Linked DNA regions of Homo sapiens: regions 2, 3 and 4 are each reported to be linked to region 1. Evidence: microRNA targets listed by miRTarBase, many of them from high-throughput screens and not tested one by one. Region 1 holds a microRNA gene; each other region holds the end of a gene's coding sequence.
Evidence for each region. Region 1 holds the annotated microRNA hsa-miR-4524a-3p (UGAGACAGGCUUAUGCUGCUAU, at 1,859-1,880, shown strand). A microRNA usually pairs through its seed, bases 2 to 8, with sites in the 3' UTR of a target mRNA and lowers its output. Matches are read on the target gene's strand: a 7mer-m8 pairs with bases 2 to 8, a 7mer-A1 pairs with bases 2 to 7 and ends in A, and an 8mer does both.

Region 2: miRTarBase lists SEC14L5 as a target of hsa-miR-4524a-3p. Seed matches in the 3' UTR shown: 7mer-m8 at 608-614 and 8mer at 448-455.
Region 3: miRTarBase lists FRMD8 as a target of hsa-miR-4524a-3p. Seed matches in the 3' UTR shown: 8mer at 2,943-2,950.
Region 4: miRTarBase lists PCYOX1 as a target of hsa-miR-4524a-3p. Seed matches in the 3' UTR shown: 8mer at 3,055-3,062 and 7mer-A1 at 3,351-3,357.

The regions. Positions count from the first base shown.
Region 1 is chr17:69,096,377-69,101,449 of GRCh38, reverse strand. MIR4524A (microRNA 4524a) reads left to right here and starts at 1,818; the gene lies at 1,818-1,886. ABCA6 (ATP binding cassette subfamily A member 6) reads left to right here. Exons shown (of 39, transcript NM_080284.3): 22 at 516-653; 23 at 3,423-3,530; 24 at 4,649-4,822. MIR4524B (microRNA 4524b) reads right to left here and starts at 1,908; the gene lies at 1,794-1,908.
Region 2 is chr16:5,014,038-5,019,107 of GRCh38, reverse strand. It overlaps SEC14L5 (SEC14 like lipid binding 5), which reads right to left. Exons shown (of 16, transcript NM_014692.2): 16 at 1-4,249. The coding sequence ends at 4,138. Among named protein-coding and RNA genes, the nearest start is that of NAGPA-AS1, 17 kb to the left of the region's middle.
Region 3 is chr11:65,410,961-65,416,030 of GRCh38, reverse strand. FRMD8 (FERM domain containing 8) reads right to left here. Exons shown (of 11, transcript NM_031904.5): 11 at 2,506-4,789. The coding sequence ends at 4,671. Among named protein-coding and RNA genes, the nearest start is that of NEAT1, 9.3 kb to the left of the region's middle.
Region 4 is chr2:70,276,722-70,281,791 of GRCh38, forward strand. PCYOX1 (prenylcysteine oxidase 1) reads left to right here. Exons shown (of 6, transcript NM_016297.4): 6 at 13-4,464. The coding sequence ends at 671. SNRPG (small nuclear ribonucleoprotein polypeptide G) reads right to left here. Exons shown (of 4, transcript NM_003096.4): 4 at 4,641-4,963. The coding sequence ends at 4,913. Among named protein-coding and RNA genes, the nearest start is that of SNRPG, 14 kb to the right of the region's middle.

The DNA.
Region 1 (5,073 bases):
TAATTTTTGTATTTTTTAGTAAACATAGGGTTTTGCTATGTTGGCCAGGCTAGTCTCAAACTCCTAACCTCAAGTGATCTGCCCGCCTTGGCCTCCCAAAGTGCTAGAATTACAGGTGTGAGCCACCATGCCCAATCTTCCTTTGCTTCTTCATCATAAACTGACAGCATCTCCTTGTCAGGGAGACTTTTAAACTCTACTAAATGAAATTTCCCCATCAGCAAAATGGAGACAAAATTATCTAAAATTAGTAATACAAATAAAAATTCATATTGATTGTATGCTGACTCTGTGCTAGAGCTTAATGTACATGAATAGAGTGTCATTTAAGCCCTATAACAACCCATTTAGTATTTCCTTTTCATAGATGAGGAAGGTAAAGCTCAGAAAGTTTAGTTCACTTGAAGATGGACACACAACAAGCATGTGGCACTGTTAGGATCTTTTATACATAAACCTTGCCTTTGTTCTTTAAGAATTTAGCATTAACATTATTTATTTGTTTCTGTTTTAAGGATTATAGATTTTCAGTTGTGTGTAATACCAAGAGATTGCACTGTTTTCCAATTCTTATGAATATTATCAGCAATGGGCTACTTCAAATGTTTAATCACACACAACATATTCGAATTGAGTCAAGCCCATTTCCTCTTGTAAGTATTGGATTTACTGAGTCTAAACAATTAAGAATTGGACAAATAGCCTATGTTTTCTCTCTTTAGCTTTTAAATATCCATAAGTGATTGTTAAGCCTGAAAATTATTATTTTATCCTAATATTTTCAATGGGTTATAGCAAACAAAACAGGATTTTTTTTTCCTGCCAAGTTATCAGATAATTATCGTGAGGGAATACTTTTCAATATTTTGTCAGTCTTCTAGGCAATGTTTTGAAAAGTTGTACATACTTGATTGTGGAAGTGTATGAGAAAGAGAAACAGAAAAAAGAAAACACTGACTTGGAAATCAGGAGAACTTGTAACCCTGGTTACATATAAATCTATTATAATTAGTTAGTGGACCCTCCATTGACTAAATGTGTAGTAGACAGACTAATATGAAGGAGAATCTGCCAGTTCTGGGGCTATCTGTTGATTTATTTATTCACCTACTCATAGTTGCTCTATGTTGTGAGGGAGCCTAATACACACAGGCTGCATTGGATTCTGTGTCAGTTGGCTATAGTCTGGCTTCAGACAGTTTGGACACTAGAAAGCAGTGGTGGGAGACAGAAGAGCAGAGGACCCCCTACATTGGGCTCCAGTCACATCACCTCCTTCTGCTGTTCCTGAAGCCCAGAAGCAACAATAGCTTGCTTCTCACTTCACCATCTTTGTGGGATGCTCATCACCCACCTAACCATGTCATAAGGAATTGCACTCTAAGAACTTAACGTAGTCATGGTTTTCTGGTTAGACCCTGCCTGATACCAACAGGGGTGTCTCAAAGCTGACTCCAACTGTTTCACACCAGAAGTCTGAAACATCAAGAAGCAGGATTAGAAATGAAGCCATCCAAAGGGAAGTCCATTTTGTGACAAAAGTGTGAAGCTCAGTTTTGGCTTCACTGAATCAGTGGTGCTGGGAGTATATGCAAGCACAGGTTTTCTGTAAGCCATGGGAACAATGGGGATGAAATATACAGTACTTGAGATGTTCGTGACAGACACATACCTCCGTGAGTTGAGTATGACCGACTGATCACGTAAACAGGTCTGCTGCACAGGATGACTCGAGGGAAGGGGTGTCTGAAGGGAATTCTCCAGAAAGTGGAACCAGAGGAGTAGCAGAAAGAGACAGTGATTACCCTTCCTCTTTGGAACGATAGCAGCATGAACCTGTCTCACTGCAGAATTATTTTGAGACAGGCTTATGCTGCTATCCTTCAAAAGAACACATCCACCCAGCTACTGAGGTTTCCATCTCTGGGTTTGCTCAGAAAGACATGCTGCTCAGGCCTGAATTATGTGTTCATCAAAGGTCCTAACTTCTGAATTATTAGCTTCCTAATGCCATTGTGTTTGCTCAGGATCAAAATGGACTGAAGCCCATAGCTACTCTATTAGAAACCTGTTCCCCACTCCCACTTCCCCATGGCACACACCTTTCCTCCCTCATTCCTATGATGAAAAACAGAATTTATAGACATAGCCCTCAAAGTCTTAAATAAAGTTAAATAATTGTGGAATTATTTTGAGACAGGCTCATGCTGTTATCCTGTAATTATATCCATGAGGTGGTCCTAGATGCTGCTAGAGTGTCCACTTGGCCTAGCCTCAAGTGGATGCTGATTTGGGGGTAGTGATTTAAAGTTCCTTTCCCTGAAGTTAAGACAAGCAGCAACAAGTTTTCTTCTTGGTTCTGTGCTTCAGAACACATCCACCCAGCTACTGAGGTTTCCATCTCTGGGTTTGCTCAGAAAGACGTGCTACTCAGGCCTGAATTATATGTTCATCAGAGGTCCTAACTTCTGAATTATTGTTTTTTTGTTGTGGTAATAATACATGATATAAAATTGACCATTTTAGCTGTTTGCAAGTGTACAGTTGAGTAGTATTAAGTATATTCACATTGTTGTGAAATGCATCTCCAGAACTTTGCCGTCTTGCGGAATTGAAACTCGATGCCAATTAGCTTTCCCCCTCCCCCATCCCCTGGAAATAACCATCCTATTATGTTTCTATGAATATTACTAGTTTAGAAACCTTATATAAGTGGAATATTTGTCTTTTTGTAACTGGTTTATTTCACTTAGCATATTTTCCAGGTTCGTCTATGTTGTAGCATGTGACAGGATTTCCTTCTTTTTTTTTTTTTTTTTTTTTTGAGACCGAGTTTTGTTCTTGTTGCTCAGGCTGCAGTGCAATGGGGCGATCTCTGCTCACTGCAACCTCTGCCTCCCAGATTCAAGCGATTCTCCTGCCTCAGCCTCCCAAGTTGCTGGGATTACAGACATTTACCACCACACCTGGCTGATTTTGTATTTTTAGTAGAGATGGGGTTTCACCATGTTGGTCAGGCTGGTTCAGACTCCTGACCTCAAGTGATCCTTTTTAAGGTTGAATAGTATCCATTGTTTGTATATACATACACATTTTGTTAATCCATTAATTTGGACTTTTGGGTTGCTTCCACTTGTGAGTATTGTTGGTATGAATATGAATGTGAGGGTATCTCTTCGAGAGCTTGCTTTCAATTCTTTTGGAAATATCCCCAGAAGTAGGTCCTAAATGACTTTTGACTTCTCTTTGTTCTTTGAGTTGAAGATCAGAGTCACTTTCCCTCCCACCTTCGTGCCTAGATGGTAATGAGCTACACCTTTACTTTGATTTTTCAACATTTCAAAAAGTGCATTTTTGTGGCTATAATTATTTGTTTCATTTAACAAATATTCACTAGTTTAAGCTACCCTTTATATTTTCAGAGCCACATAGGACTCTGGACTGGGTTGCCGGATGGTTCCTTTTTCTTATTTTTGGTTCTATGTAGCATTTCTCCTTATATCACCATGGGCAGCATCAGTGATTACAAGGTAAGAAAAAGCAGGGAAAAGAAGAAATTTCAGGAATTTCAATATCTGTATTTTGAATGCTATGTGTTCAAAATGTTTTCTTCTGACAAAAACATTTGAATGTATGTTTAATTTAGATATTGTAGCTAAACCTTATTCTTGGCAAGTCAGATAATTTACTTCTAAAAACTCAAAATGCTTTTTATTCCAAAGTCACCTGAAAAGTACAGTGATTTTTCAGAGACTCCAATTAGTCTAAACCTTCAAAGGGAAATATTATAAATCTTTTGACCACATTATTTCCCAGCCACAAGAAGGAAATCATTGATGTTGAAATCAAAGGCCAAATTTAAGACTTGAATTCCTTTTCCACTCTGGAAATTGCAATTTTATGTTATATTTGTATTCGATTATGCCCATTATTCAGACAAAGCAGTTAAATCTATCAACGTTCACCATCCTGAGCCAGAAACTCTCCAAGATGTTTAGGTAAAGGTAAATGTATTATGTCCTCCAGGTCACAAAATAATACTTTTTTTTTTTTTTTTTTGAGATGGAGTCTCACTCTGTTGCCCAGGCTGGAGTGCAATGGTGCAAAATCGGTTCACTGCAAACTCCGCCTCCCGGGTTCAAGCAGTTCTTCTGCCTCAGCCTCCTGAGTAGATGGGATTACAGGCTTGCACCACCATGCCCAACTACTTTTTGTGTTTTTAGTCAAAATGGGCTTTCACCATGTTAGCCAGGATGGCCTCAATCCCCTGACCTTGTGATCCACCCGCCTTGGCCTCCCAAAGTGCTGGGATTACAGGCGTGAGCCACCATGCTGGCCAATACTTATTTTTATAGAGTTTAATGCCTTGAACATTATGAGGTCCACTTTTCATTATTCATGAGCTAAAGTTGTGTTATGAGTCAGGCCTATCACAGTATACATTTTATTTTTGATAGACACCTTGTAAACCATGGAACTGGCTCTATAAGCCTCATGTTACTAAGCAGTATATGCATAATTTTTTTTAATATTAGAAGATTAGATTATATTTATCTTAAAAATTCTTCCAATGTGTTTGTGTTTATTTTAGATTTGCATTTTAATTGAATCTATATACATTTCTTTCTTTCTTTTTTTTTTTAATCAGAAAAATGCTAAGTCCCAGCTATGGATTTCAGGCCTCTACACTTCTGCTTACTGGTGTGGGCAGGCACTAGTGGACGTCAGCTTCTTCATTTTAATTCTCCTTTTAATGTATTTAATTTTCTACATAGAAAACATGCAGTACCTTCTTATTACAAGCCAAATTGTGTTTGCTTTGGTAAGTAACACAGTACATAAACCAAATTTCATAAAGTAATTAATAATAAATTTTAACATTGTTATTTTAAGTAGTTAAGATGTTTTAATTCATATTTTGTAATAAACCAAAACAAAAAACATGCAAAGTGCATGTATGATAAATACTAATAGTTTCAGATACCAAAGATGTTTTATACTTATGCCAGGTTACTTGTTTTTTAAAAGTTGTAATCTAATTTTTCCCTCAGTAATATTTGATTTTTTGACTAT
Region 2 (5,070 bases), not on the chromosome of region 1:
GTCCGGGGCCGCGTGCAGCCTGCAGGCCACAGGCTGAACAAGCTAGCTCTAAAGTCTTTTAAACAACAGCTGGAAAGTTCTTGAACGAGCCCACGGGAAACCTCCAGGGTTTTAGGAAGCTGACGATGCAAGTTTATCCAAATGGAAAACATTTAATGCTGCTGGTTGGAGCAAGTGATCAGGCAAACAAAAAAACCCATCGTGTTTCACTGGCTCAAAGAGACTTTGTTGAAAACAATTATACTATTCTCATTGGACAATAAATTTTACAGCAGGGAGGGGGAATTCCAGAGAGTGCAGGGTAGAAAAAAAGAGTCTCAAACTCTCCATACTTCAACCTCTGGGAAAAAACATTTTCTAACTGCCAAGGGAAATACCACTCAGAATACACTCCCTCAGATGGGTGGACTTACCCAGAAAACACAAGCAGCTTCTTTCTTCTTTTTTTGAGACAGGGTCTTGCTTTGTCACCCAGGATGAAGTACAGGGGTGAGATCATGGCTCACTCCAGCCTTGACCTCCAAGCAATCCTTCTGCCTCAGCCTCCCGAGCAGCTGAGACTATAGGCACGCACCACCACGCCTGGCTCATTTTTTAATTTTTTGTAGAGACAGGGTCTCACTATGTTGCCCAGGCTGGTCTTGAACTCCTGCACTCAAGCGATCAGCCGGCCTCAGCCTCCCAAAGTGTTGGGATTATAGGCATGAGCCACCACGCCCCGCCCACACAAGCAGTTTCTAAAAGAGAAAGACTGCACACCCAACTCAGAGGGCAATAATTCTTGACACCTACTTTTCTCTGGGTGCAATAACGAAAAACAGGGATAGGCGACCTCAGGAAGAAAACGAGTCTTTGGATGCGAAGCATTAAGTAATCAGAATGACCACTGACATTAATGGAGCGCTTTCTGTGTTCTGGGAGCTGTGCTGAAAGCTTTACAGCTACTCCCTCATTTCGTCCCACTACAACCTATTGAGGTAGGCACTGCTATCCTCACTTTACAGATGAGGAAACTGAGGCACAGAGAGGTTAAGTCACCTGGTCAAGGTTACACAGCTAGTGAAAGGAAGGCTGGGGTTTGAGTCCTGGCCTAAATTCAAGGCCCAGGTGCCCAAACACCAACAGTAATGCTGCTTGTGGGTTGCTTCTGTCCTGGTCACAATGGATTAATGAACTAATGATGCAAGAAGCCCAAGCCAAGGCACTTCCAGCCTTTGTGGCTCAGGGGAAATTCAAAAGCCAAAAGCTTGGCAATCCCTTCCTTGGATTATTTTTAATTCCAGTCCTCCCGAAGGCAAGAAGAATGACCTTGATAATGCTTCCACGTGGGTCCCCGAGACCTCCACATGGGAGGAGAGCCGGCCGTAGCAGATGCCACCATGGATACCTGCTGGTTCTGTGGTCCAGCTTCTCTTGTCCATTGGGGGAATGGCCCTCCCCAATCCTGCTGCGGCTTCTGCAGGGAATGTCAATCACGGGACCCTAGTTCCTTGCCAGTGTGGCCCACAGGAATAAGCATGTGACTCGAGCTGGGCCAATCAGAGCCTTCCATGAGATTTGAGATGGAAAAGCATCTCTTAGAGTGTGAATCCTGAAATTATAGGCTTGGGGCTGCTGGCAGCCATCTTTCCCGCCAGGTGGAAGAAAGAATGAGGTCAGCATGCAAAGAGATGCAGAGTCAAGAGGCCTGGGTGCAGTTGAGAGGCCTGAGGACATTAAGCTCCTGGATCCAGCCATATCTGAAGCAGCACCCACCTTCAGCCATCCCTAGTACAGGACCCAGGGAATTTGCTTTGTTGCTTAAGCCAGTTTGGGCTGGTTTTCCCTAGGGAGAGAGCACTCTCAAGAGCAGAACTGAAAGGGCCTGAGGTTCCTCACCCCCACTGTTAAGGGTGGACAGCTGATAGCAGACTCCCCTCCCCCCACCCGCCTCTGGAACAGGCAGTTCCAGCTTCCTTCCGTAAAAGGCTTCTGTGTCCTTCTCTGGGGCTAGACAATAAATGTATAAAGACTGCCAGGGCAGCTTATCCCAGCATACTTGTAGGATAACACCTAGTTTTTAAGAGAAAAGCTAGAAATTCACTTAAAGATAGTTGAAAATATTGCAAGTTGCTCTCAGCAATAAATGCCTGGTGATATGGGAGCAATTAGTTTTGAGAACGTCTCCTTCCAATCAGTCGGTCTCTTATGCACACATGTGCACACACACCTTGACGCAGAGTGCAAAGCAATCTATTTTGTTCAGATACCTGAGAAGCGGACAGAGAGCCAACAGGAAGGTGGGCAAGGCTCTCTCCCAGCAGGAAGAAGGATGTATCTGAAAAGATGACACTTTCTCTCTTCCTTGGGTTTGGGGTTGAGGCTGGCGTAGATATAAGTTTCCTGGCCCTGCATTGCTGAGCCTGCATAAAGATGATTCTTGTGGCCACAAAACCACCCCTTGGCTCAGTTACTGCAGCAGAGATGAGCCCCAACTCTAAGCAAGGCCAGGAGACAAGGGTACCAGCCACTGCTGACAGAGCCATGTCAGTGAGACTCCTGCCACGCAGGTCATGAGGATGTGTAATGTGGGCTGGGCGCAAGTCAATGGGGTAGGGACTGGCGTGGCCACATCCAGGGGTGCAGAGGTGTTGTCTTCATGCAACAATAGTGACCCCATTCTGCTGGTGCTCCCAAATGCCTAAGGGAAGCCAGAAATCCTGATTTCGATGCGAAATGCCTCAATTTTTAAACCATTCTAAAGGCAAAAAAGCAACACTAAAAGCAGGCCAGATCAGGCTTCAAGTTGGTGACCCCTGACTGGCTGCCTTTTGGGGAGTCCAGGAAAGGAAAGGAGAAATGTCCTCAGGCCCCAAGGAGACCCAAGACGCTCCTGTGTAGTAACTAGGGGAACTCATGTCAATATTGAACCTAGTTCCAGAGTCATATCTGCCCCAGGGCAAACACAGCAGCCTCCACTCGCGGGGGGAATCGAGACTCCATGTTGAGACCCTGGATCTAGCCTTACCTGAAGCAAGCCCTCCTGGACTGGCCAGTTCTATGCACCCATGAATGATCATGCTTTTGTGTTGAAGCACCTGGGCATGGGTCTCTGTGGCTTACAACCAAAAACAGTCATAATTAAACAGTTCCCTAGGAGAGAAAGGCATCTCCAGTGGGGTATACAGACAGCCTCAGTCACCCCATCACTGCCTGGAACTTAGCAGAAACCCAGGGCTCTCCCACCCTCTCCAATCAGGGATGGTCAGGCTTAGGCCATGCTGGCCAAGTGCAGGGAACATGGATTTTCACTTCAGGATGTGCTGTTCCCCACAAAGAGCAGCGCCTGTAACTCACTTAACTGCTCACCAAGCACATCTTGATACTGCATAACAGAACGTTATGCAATCAGATGCCAAGGTAAACACCCTTCATTTCTGCCTCCCCAGCATCCTTCCTCCTTCTTCTTAGGGGGGACCCCAGTACTCCTCGAGGCACCCACTAGTGCTTTTGAGAGCAGGTGGTTGGTTCCAGAGATGTGCATGTGATCCAGGCTGGCCAATCACTGCACCTCACTGCAACCCTGGATCACGGTGATTGGTCCAGATTGGGCATGACCCTGCTGGCCAATCAGCATTCTCCAGTGTGCCTGGCAACTGTGATTGGTTCAGGAATTGACCTGGCAATCGCTCCCCCTTCCAGGCTAAGACTCAGCTCTGGGAAGTGGGCTGGAGCCTTTGGGAGGAAGAGGCTCTCTTATGCAGGCAAGCTGCAGGGAGGAGAAGGGCACCTGATAGTGATGGTCCCCTGCATGGCGAAAGCAGAGCAAGAGGTGGACAGAGAGGAGATGGGCCTGGCTGACGTCGCTAAGCCCGGATGTCCCAAAGGTGTGGTATGGTAGACACCTTGGCCTTGGCTTGGTCTTCCTTACACGAAGCCGGAAGGAGATGGTTCTGTCCTTGCAATTTCAAGAGCCCTGACACCACCCACAGGCCAGTTCTGGATCCTTGCCATCCGCTCCAGACACCCCAACTTGGGCAGCATCTAGGCCTGGGGCTCCAGCCCACATGGTCCCAGGCCCTGCAGTTAGCTGGCTTCTCATTCTGGACATTTCTGGACACTGGAGGCGAGCGGGCGGCCCTGAAACACTGGGCCCGGCTATCTGGAGACCAGGGAGCTGCTATGAGACTGGCCGGAGGAGGAGGACGAGGTGGCGGCGCTGAGCTGGGAGAAGCCGCTGGTGCAGGATTCCAGGCTGGACATGGAGCCCCTGGGGAGGAAGGGCGTGGCACACGTTACCCTCTCACAGTGACAAGGCCCTTGGGCTGACACACAGCAGTGGAAAAGCTGTTGATGCTGCAAATCAGGCCCCAGGGCCCCAGGCCGATGCAAAGGGAAAAGCAAGTGACGCCATGAAGAGAAAAGCACTACCGAATTCCCCACACTCCCATCTCCCCAGATGGAGCCCAGCCTGCCACAGACCCATCAGGGGCTCCCCTGGCCTGAGGCCCTTGCATGGCCCTAAGGCCGCCACAGCCCAGGGAGTCCCCGGCCCTGTCTCCAGTCTCACTCCCTCCTTACTCTTTGCACTCAAATTCCATGGTCCTCCTCCTAGCTCTTGCAGTGGCCTTCGTGTGCGCTGAGCCTGAGGCAGAAGCCCATTCTCTCCTCCCCCAGCTGTCTGGTTAACTCCTACTCCAAACCTCAGGGCAGCGCCATCCTCGAGAACTTTCTTTTCTTGTATAGAGACGGGGCTCTCACTATGCTGCCCAGGCTGGTCTCAAACTCCTGGGATCAGGAGATCCTCGTGACTCGGCCTCCCAAAGCACTTGGATTACAGGCGTGAGGCACCATGCCCACCCTCCAAGAACTTCCTGCGATGAACGTGCTGTACACCTGCACAGTCCAACACACCAGCCACTGGCCACATGGGCTGCTCATCACTTGAAATGTGGCCCATGCGACTGAGGCACTGAATTGTTCCTTTTATTTCATTCTCCTTGCTAAGTTAAATTGCTGCAGGTGACTAGCAGCGACCAGATAGGACAGTGCAGCTTTAGGGCCTTGCTACTCAAAGCATGGTCTGGGAAC
Region 3 (5,070 bases), not on the chromosome of region 1:
GTGGCCTGCACATCTGTTGGGGCATCATGTGTGTGCAAAGTGACCCATTTTCCTGGTCTTTATGTTCTTATCCCCGGTGTCATCTGAAAAGCTGCCTGGACTCTGAGCTGATGTCTCCATGGGTAACTCTGTTGCTAATCCTGCAACCCTGTGTGCGGGGAGCAGTTGGAACTCCTGCTCCCTGACAAGTGTCAGAGGCCCCTGGCACATCCACCCCAGCCCTCTCCTTCCCAGCTTTATCTGTGCCCCTTGCACCACTGTTTTTTCAGACTGAGCATGACAGCGTCCTGGGTCGCCTTGGTCGCTGTGGCTTTTCTGAGTCCCAGCAGCACCTCTGGCCTCCCGTGTGTCTCTCCATGCACTGCCACTTGGCTGGGGGCTGGCCACATGAAGCCTCAGCTGTGGGTCTGCGCAAGCCTCTTGCTGGGCTCTGGTTGTGGCTGGAGCCTCCTGTGTCCAGCTAGCCCCGGGTTGGGAAGCCCGCAGGAATGCCCCAGCTGCTGCTGTAAGTGGAGAATGACCTGGAAACCCCAGCCTCAGAAGGGACAGTAGGATCGCATGTGTTGACTGTTCTGGTCACCTCTGCTTCCTGCATTCTGAAGAGTTAGGGAGAGTCTGGGGACTGGGGACTGTGAAGACCTCGTCCCACTGCACTGTCCTCAGGGGCAGTCTGGGCAGAGCCTCTTCAGGTCTTCAGGCCTCTGGATCCAGGTGCTGGCTGAGCCAGGCTGTGCGTGCCAGGCTGGCAGGTGGCAAAGTCACTCCTGCTGCCCCGTGCAACCCAAGCGTAGCTAGGATTTGAAAATAACAGCTGTTCCGGCATTAAAGAACCCCAAAGAAGTCCAAGACAATCATCTGTAGGGTAGTGGTAAGGGTTAAATCGTGTTCCCCCAAAAGGATATGTCGAAGTCCTAACCCTCAGTGCATCAGAATGTGACATGATGTGGGAACAGGATCATTGCAGGTGTTATTAGTTAAGATGAGCTCATGGTGGAGTAGGGTGGGCCCCTAGTCTAATCTGACTGGTGTCTTTGTAAGAACACAGCCATGTGAAGACACAGACACTAAGGAAGATGCCAGATGACCACATAGGCAGAGACTGGCTGTGCAGCCGCAAGCCAATGAATGCCTGAACGGCCAGCAAGGCACCAGAAGCTAGGAGCAGGCAAGGAAGGCCTCTCCTATGGGTTGCAGAGGGAGCACGGCCCTGCTGAGCTGAAACCTGGATTTTGGACTTGTAGCCCCCAGAACTGTGAGACAATCAGTTTACTTTTTTTTTTTTTTTGAGACAGAGTTTTGCTCTGTCACCCAGGCTGGAGTGCAATGGCACGATCTCGGCTCACTGCAACCTCCGCCTCCCGGGTTCAAGCGATTCTCCTGCCTCAGCCTCCCCAGTAGCTGGGATTACACGCATGCGCCACCATGCCTAGCTAATATTGTATTTTTAGTAGAGACAGGGCTTCTCCACGTTGGTCAGGCTGGTCTCAAACTCCCGACCTCAGGTTATCCGCCCGCCTTGGCCTCCCAAAGTGCTGGGTTTACAGGCGTGAGCCACTGCACCTGGCCGAAGTGAGTTGTTTTTTCGGAATTTTTTTTTTTTTTTCGAGACAGGGTCTTGCTCTGTTGCCCAGGCTGGAGTGCACAGTGGTGTGAACACAGCTCGCTGTATCCTCGACCTCCTGGGCCCAGGCGATCCTCTAGTCTCAGCTTCCCAAGCAGCTGGGCACGACAGGCTTGTGCCACCATGCCTGGCTAATTTTTTTTGTTTTTGTAGCAATGGGGTTTCGCCATGTTGCCCAGGCTAGGCTCAAGTGACCCTCCCGCCTTGGCCTCCCAAAGTGCTGGGATTACAGTAGCAAGCCACTGTGCCTGGCCTGGGCACTGTTATTCCCACGAAAGGTCACAGGTGCCCATGGTCATGGCATTGTGCTGCCTTGCCAGGCAAAGATGATCACACAGAGGACAAGGTGCCACTCACTGTCATGGACACCCAAGGAGACGGCCCTGTTCCCAGGACTACGCTGCCACAGGGACAGGTGGCTTACTCCTCCCATCTCTGGAAACATTGTGAACCCCAATCCCCCAGTGGCGCTCATCCTGCAGGCCCAGGTCCTGGGTGGCTGCTGCAGGGCTCAGAGTCCTCCAGGGGTCTGCTACTGTCCCTTCCCTCCCAGGTAGGTGTTGACAGCAGGATCTGTGGGAAACAAACGGCCTCCTGCCAGGCCTGGAGCATGAGGTGCCCTCAGGAAGGGCATGAGCATCTGCAGTTACCCACCTTGGTCCCCACAGGAACCCCAGAGCCCCTCCTGGGCAACGTGGGGCTGGGAGTACAAGCCGCCAAGATGAGACAGCTTCACTCGGGTGCTCCGTGGGCATCAACCTGGCTGGCCTGAGGGCTGCACACCTTGACGTACGTTTCATGAAAACCAAACATGCAGCCTGTAATCAACTCTTGGACTGTCACGGACACACCCTCATTATTTCATATCATGAGCTGCCCCAGAGTTTGTTAGAAACTGATTTTAATAAGTCACATGATACAAAAGAATGAGAACATTCAAAGAATGAGTAAAATACTGCTTTGTCCCAAAGGACAAGCAGAAAATGTTAAGGCACAATGGATGCTCAGAAAACGTAAGAAGCTGAAGGGAAAACACATCATCTGTGTACTCAGACACACACACTCCAACCCATCACACGAACACACCCTCGCCCGCCCATCAGAGAAGAATTCGCCTGGAATCAGCTGGGGGCGGTGGCTCACGCCTATAATCCCAGCACTTTGGGAGGTTGAGGCGGGCAGATCATGAGGTCAGGAGTTCACGACCAGCCTGACCAACATGGTGAAACCCTATCTCTACTAAAAATACAAAAATCAGCGGGGCCTGGTGGCATGCACCTGTAATCCCAGCTACTCAGGAGGCTGAGGCAGGAGAATCGCTTGAGACAGAGGTTGCAGTGAGCCGAGATGCGCCACTGCACTCCTGCCTGGGCAACAGAGCAAGACTCCGTCTCAAAAAAAATAAAAAAATAAAAAAAATAAAATCACCTGGAATCAAAGCAGCAGGGACAGCCTGCGCTGGAGCCGCCAGAACAGGCAGGCGGGCAGCTCCGCAAGACCGAGCAACTCCAGGACGGGAGACGAGAACTGGCAGCTGACATGACCCTGTGACCAGGACATTCCAAAAGACTGGGGGCCCTTCCCAGGCCTCTTCTTTCCGCCTATTATTTTAACAAAGTCCATGCTGCCAGAAGGCAAGCCTACCTCGAAACACCTGGCACATTCACAAGCTACCAAAGGGAGGAGGGTGAACAGGCTCTGATACTTGGAGTAGAGGCCCAAGCTTCCTCTCCCACGGTTTTCCACCGGGAACGAAGACAAAGCCAAGCCCTGTGCAGCCACAGGAAGTCCCAGGAAGCACCTGTGAGACCCGCACACCCACCTCGGAGGGTCCCAGGGCTGGGAAAGCCCTCCTCTCAGGGGCTCTCAGCTCATCTGGGACAAGACAGAGCCCCTGCTCCCCGGAGGGCAAGCTGGGACCAGAGAAGCCAAGCACCCATATCAGTCACCTTTCCAAGTGTCCTCGATAAAGAAGAGAGTGTCCCGTGTGGCCCAGGCTTTCCTGGGCATGCGCCAGCCCCCAGAGGAATCCATGGCGCCACCTGGGAAGGAGCGCACAGCAGAGGTACCCAGGGCACTTCCTGGCGTTGCCCCAGCACAACTCAGATGAACAAAGACCAAACTAAAACCTGAAGACCCAGACACAGGGAGGGGAGGTCAGGTCCGGTCAGTCCCCTAGGGGAGCTGCTTGGGCTCCAGGGAGTGCCCACCAGGGGATTTTCAGTTTTTCACAGACTGTGAGTGTGGGTCTGGAGGCCAGGTGGTCCACAGGATAGCCACCTCCCAGCAGTGACATCACCAAAGGCTATCAGAAAGGCATGCTCTTTCTGGTATCTCGTGCCTGCAAAGGAGACCAGAACGAGGGGCACAGGACCCCAGGTAGGGCCCTGCCTGGCTCCCTCCATTCCTGATTCAACCAGGGAGGTGTGGTGGGGGCCCTCACCGTGTTTCTGTCCCGGTTCAATCCAGGGAGGCCCCTCCTACCCTCCTCAGAGTGGTGGCCCAGCCTGGTATTGGGGGATGGAGCACCAGCAGGAGGAAGGTGGGAAACTGGTCATCCAAGTCCGGGGGGTGGAGCACTAGCAGGAGGAAGACGGAGACTGGTCACCCAAGTCCAGGGAAGAGGCCAAAGGCACACACTGGAGCTTCAGGTCCCAAACCTCAATCCTTGGTCCTCTACCACTGGAGCTGCCACTGGGCACTTCAGAACAGGGACACTGCCCATCTTGAGGTGGGCACAAAGGCATGTTTCTAGGTGAGGGTGGCAGCTGCAGCTTGATCGGATGGTCCTGAGAGAGCAGCAGGGCCCAGCATCCGGGGGAAGGGAGGGCAGGCTGCAGAGGAGCCCTACAGGAGGCCCTGGCCAGCTTTGCACAGCCCGGGCATGGCCCCGGGCCCAAAAGTCACTTCTCCGTGGTCTGAGAAACCTGCTGAGGCAGCCCTCCCCACGTGGTGACCCATGAGACTGTTGCAGCCGGCGCCTGCCCCTCAGGAGGACAGTGCCGGGCCAGGGCCCCCAGTCGCCCTCCTCCTGCCGGGTGCAGCGTCCTCAGCCCTGCTCCAGGCTGTCGCCGGGCTGCACCACGGTGTAGCTCCCCTGGCCCAAGGACAGCTGCCGGCTGAAGAAGGATGTGGTGCGCTTCGGCTTCACTCGCCTGATCCCCTTGCCTGCGAGGGAATGGGAGGGCACACTGAGCAGAGGCGCTGTCCCTGTGTGAGGGGGCTCAGGCCCAGGAAGCCAGGTTCTGGCTCCAGCGCGACGGCTCCTTCCAGAGCCTGGTCAGACTGAGCTCCCCTCATCCGAGCCTCAGCCCCGCTCAGCATGCTACAGTATACCCCAAGCAGCGCTCCCTAACACTGCCGACCTAAGGTCATCACAGACAAGGAGGGTCCTTCATAGCCAAGAGAAGCCTGGGGAGACGTGACAACTAAATGCAGTGTGGGGTCCT
Region 4 (5,070 bases), not on the chromosome of region 1:
TATTTCCTCTAGGAAATCCAACAAAGATGTATGAAGTGGTCTACCAAATTGGAACTGAGACTCGTTCAGACTTCTATGACATCGTCTTGGTGGCCACTCCGTTGAATCGAAAAATGTCGAATATTACTTTTCTCAACTTTGATCCTCCAATTGAGGAATTCCATCAATATTATCAACATATAGTGACAACTTTAGTTAAGGGGGAATTGAATACATCTATCTTTAGCTCTAGACCCATAGATAAATTTGGCCTTAATACAGTTTTAACCACTGATAATTCAGATTTGTTCATTAACAGTATTGGGATTGTGCCCTCTGTGAGAGAAAAGGAAGATCCTGAGCCATCAACAGATGGAACATATGTTTGGAAGATCTTTTCCCAAGAAACTCTTACTAAAGCACAAATTTTAAAGCTCTTTCTGTCCTATGATTATGCTGTGAAGAAGCCATGGCTTGCATATCCTCACTATAAGCCCCCGGAGAAATGCCCCTCTATCATTCTCCATGATCGACTTTATTACCTCAATGGCATAGAGTGTGCAGCAAGTGCCATGGAGATGAGTGCCATTGCAGCCCACAACGCTGCACTCCTTGCCTATCACCGCTGGAACGGGCACACAGACATGATTGATCAGGATGGCTTATATGAGAAACTTAAAACTGAACTATGAAGTGACACACTCCTTTTTCCCCTCCTAGTTCCAAATGACTATCAGTGGCAAAAAAGAACAAAATCTGAGCAGAGATGATTTTGAACCAGATATTTTGCCATTATCATTGTTTAATAAAAGTAATCCCTGCTGGTCATAGGAAAACACACGGTTCTAATTAAGTGTGAAGGTATAGCTATTGCACTTATGCCATCTCCAAAATTTCTTAAGTATTCTTTCACTATCCATTAGGAGTTTTTCTTAAACTTGTCTGATAATAAGAATCACCTGGAGTTAGGAGGTGGTGGTTGCAGTGAGCCAATCTCACCATTGCACTTCAGCCTGAGCAACACGAGCAAAACTCCGTCTCAAAAGTAAATAAAAATAATCACCTGGAGTTTGTTAAACCATATGGATTCTCAAGCTCCTCTCTTGAAGATTCTGATTCAGTAGGTCTGGGAGTGGCGCGCTGGATTTTGATCAAAATTGTAGAGCATTTTAAGGTGAGTACCTGAGGGAGAACTTAAAGACATCTTAGTTGGGGAGTAGTCCTTTTGAATTTTACAGCTAGATATAATCTTCAGTCAGATAAAATTTATGGGAGCTGGTGTCTTATGCCTGACTCTTAGTAATTTCATACCGGTTTGAAGTACGTGTGCCCATGCCTAAAGCCTTGACTTTCAGAATGTTGTCTTTTGATTCTTCTGTCTTGATTTGATTAGGGGTGAAATTTAGAAGTCTTAGTAATGTAACTTGAAGATGTTAAACAAAAATCTCAAGTAAAATGAAAAGCAAATATGGGCTACTGAATTAAGAAACTGGCATTCTAGTATTAAATCCTCACTTCAGGAGCTTTTAAAAATACTGAGACCCCCCCATAACCAGAGATTCAGATTCAAAGACTGAGGATAGGACCTTAGCATTGTAGCTATTTAAAGTTTCTAATGTGCACCCAGGGTTGGGAATCACCAATGTGGGTGTGAAAATGCCTACAAAGGGTTTTAGTGCCTTAGAAGTCCTAAGAAGCCCAATCTGTATCAAAGCAGATCCATTTTGCAAGGATCTTTCTTTTAGAACTTTCTCAGTTCTCTTAGTAAGAACTTTAGAAGTAATCTTGATAATAAGCACAGACAGCCTAACAGCAGAGGCAACTTAAATAACTCCTGAGCAGTTGGCACTAGAACAGAATACTTGGAATGACACCAAAGTTAACCAAGTCCAGCATATGTCCAAAGAGTTAAGTGTTTCATTTACTGTAGCATTCTGGGTGAGAAATTGGTTGCTGAAATCTTAAGACAGTGGTCTCAACCTTGGCTGCACATTGGAATCACCTGTAGGGTTTTAAAGCATCCAAATGGTAATTAACAGGCAGCAAAACTTCAGAACTAGTTCTGCATCTACTGTGCAAAGATCATGATTAACTGTCAAGACACTGGTAGAACAGAACAAGCAAAAGATTAAGAGTTCAAAAGTAAATGCAACCAATTTAACATGTAGTGTTATTAAAAAATTACAAAGGCCTAGACCAGCCTGGGCAACATGGTGAAACCCCATCTCTACAAAAAATTTTTAAAAAGTTGGCCAGGCATGGTAATGCGCGCCTGTGGTCCCAGCTGCTCGGGAGGCTGAGGTGGGAGGATCACTTGAGCCTTGGAGGTCAAGGCTGCAGTGAATCATGATCATGCCACTGTACTCCAGCCTGGGCAACAGAGACCATCTTAAAAAAAAAAAATCCTTCCATTGAATAGAAACTTCAAAGTCCTTCATCAGATCATGGCATTAGCTACTTTAGCAAAATAGTGTAAACTTTGGTTCTGAGTAAAAATGACTTCTTCCCTACCACAGTTGTGAATGTTAATATGCTGATAAAACTGCCAAGATATATTTGATAGGTAGGGGATTAAACTCATGGTTTGTCAAAAGAGTGTTTTTTTCTAGTTTTATTCTTAACAGATATGTTGAGGTATTCATATTTGTTTCCTTTTGTGGTTTTAATGAAGACAATTTGTAAAGTAATACTGTTATGTATATGCTAAATGTTGGTAAATACTAATTAATTTCCATCATTTGTAGACTTGTTTTGCAATGGGATATATTTTTACTTATAATACCAATTTAGGCTGGGCGCAGTGGCTCACGCCTGTAATCCCAGCACTTTGGGAGGCCAAGGCAAACGGATCACGAGGTCAGGAGATCAAGACCATCCTGGCCAACATGGTGAAACCCCATCTCTACTGAATACACAAAAATTGGCTGGACATGGTGGCGCATGTCTGTAATCCCAGCTACTGTAATCTCAGCTACTTGGGAGGCTGAGGCAGGAGAATTGCCTCAACCGGGAGGCGGAGGTTGCAGTGAGCCAAGATCGCACCACTGCACTCCAGCCTGGCAACAGAGCGAGACTCTGTCTCAGAAAAAAAAAACAAAAACCAGTTTAGGCTGGGTATGGTGGCTCACCAGCACTTTGGGAGGCTGAGGCAGGTGGATCTCTTGAGGTCGGGAGTTTGAGACCAGCCTGGCCAACATGGTGAAACCCTGTCTTTACTAAAAATACAAAAATTAGCCAGGCATGGTGGCGTGTGCCAGTAATCCCAGCTACTTGGGAGGCTGAGGCGCGAGAATCGCTTGAACCCTGGAGATGGAGGTTGCAGTGAGCAGAGATCGCACCACTGCACTCCAGCCTGGGCAAGAGTGAGACTGTGTCTCAAAAGGAAAAAAAAAAAATTAAAAATGTTGCTGGTATTACATCAAACCTACTCTGGATAAATTTTCCAGTAGGGCATCTGAAATTGCTTTGGCAAAAGCAAAACAGGTTATCAATACACCAAGGACATCAAGTAGTTTTAATGCAACTACAGTGTTGAGTGCTTTTTTACTGGGAGAAAAATCCTAGCAGAACCTGCTACTCTGGGCGCATTAGGTAGTTTTATGCAACTATAGTATTAAGAGTTTTATTGGAAGAAAAAACACTGTCAGAGCTTACTGCTCCAGACCTTTTTTTTTAATAGAAGAGACTGGTAAAAATGATGCAGGGGCTGAATGAAAGCCAGCTCTGCTCCAGTGGCTCTCTGAGTTGAGCATGCATCAGTTACCTTAAGGGCTTGTTAAAACATCGCTAGGCTCCACCCTGTTTATTCAATAAGTTTGTTATGGGATATAAGAAGATGCATTTTATTAAGTTCCCCAGTGATGCTGCTGTTCTACTATAGGAACCACACTTGAAGAACTAGTTCTACAATTCAGCTGTATGTTGTAAAGGAGTCAAGTCAATGAAGGAGTTATAAAGAGTTGCTGAAAAATGGAGTAACAGTGTATGGGACTTCACATCAGTTCTCCTTATTGATTGTTAGTTTGATCCCTCTTGTTCTTTTGTTGTAAACATTTTCTATAATTAGGAAATGCCATTTAAGAGTGAGAGAGGTATATATCTATGAGCCATTGTGTTTGGTGTTTTACAAGAACTTTACCATACTGGTGTGTAGTCCATTCTGTACAGTTTAAAAGTGATTCACGATTTGCAGGCTTTTTATCAGATCACAAAAAAATCAGTCTTTAAGCATTTGCTTGGTAAGGTTTCTTAAGATTAGGTTTATAATACAACCATCTGTAATGTATCTCTCGTTTGAGCTTGTGGGCCATACAATTCATTAACTAGATGAATACATTGTGGACAGCATCCTCACTACCCCTCTCTACTCACTCACAAAGAACCATGATACACTGGAATGTTTTTCTCTGGAATCCTCTTTCTACTCTTGTATTAAAATTTTTCCCCACTTCATGATTATATTCAAAATAAACAACTACATCATTACTTCTTGTCTTTTGCTTCTGTTGTACTATATTTGGAATGTAGATGTACTTGGGAAAGTCAGGCTAGATCAAAGTTACTATTCTTACAAGTTTTGAAAATTAGTGTTTTAGAAGAAACTCACTCATGTTTGTAACTTCTTTATCTGTTCAGTGTTGAAAGATGATGGACAGAAGGAATCCTTGCCATGTTTCACATTTAATAAGATTCTTTCACTTTAATGCATAAAACCCTTTGAAATCAATGTCAACCAGGAAAATTCATGTTAGAAAAAACTGGAATGAGAGCTGATATTCTATATTCAGAACATCTGAGAAAGCATTTTTGACTATTACAAAAGTTTATTTAACAAAAAGTCTAATATGAAAATGTACATGACCTAATTTTTACATCATAGTAAAACAGGCCCTATGGAGAGAGGACATGGGTTTCTCTGCTGAACAGCCATTATTTATACTCGTTCCAAGGCTTCTAACATGATGATACTATTTCCTCGTATTACCTAAGAAAGAGAAAAATAAATTTGAAAAGAACAACTCAGGTAACAGACATAACTATGATGATTTAAGAATTTTCACCAAATCATTAATGGTTTTTTAATATTACATG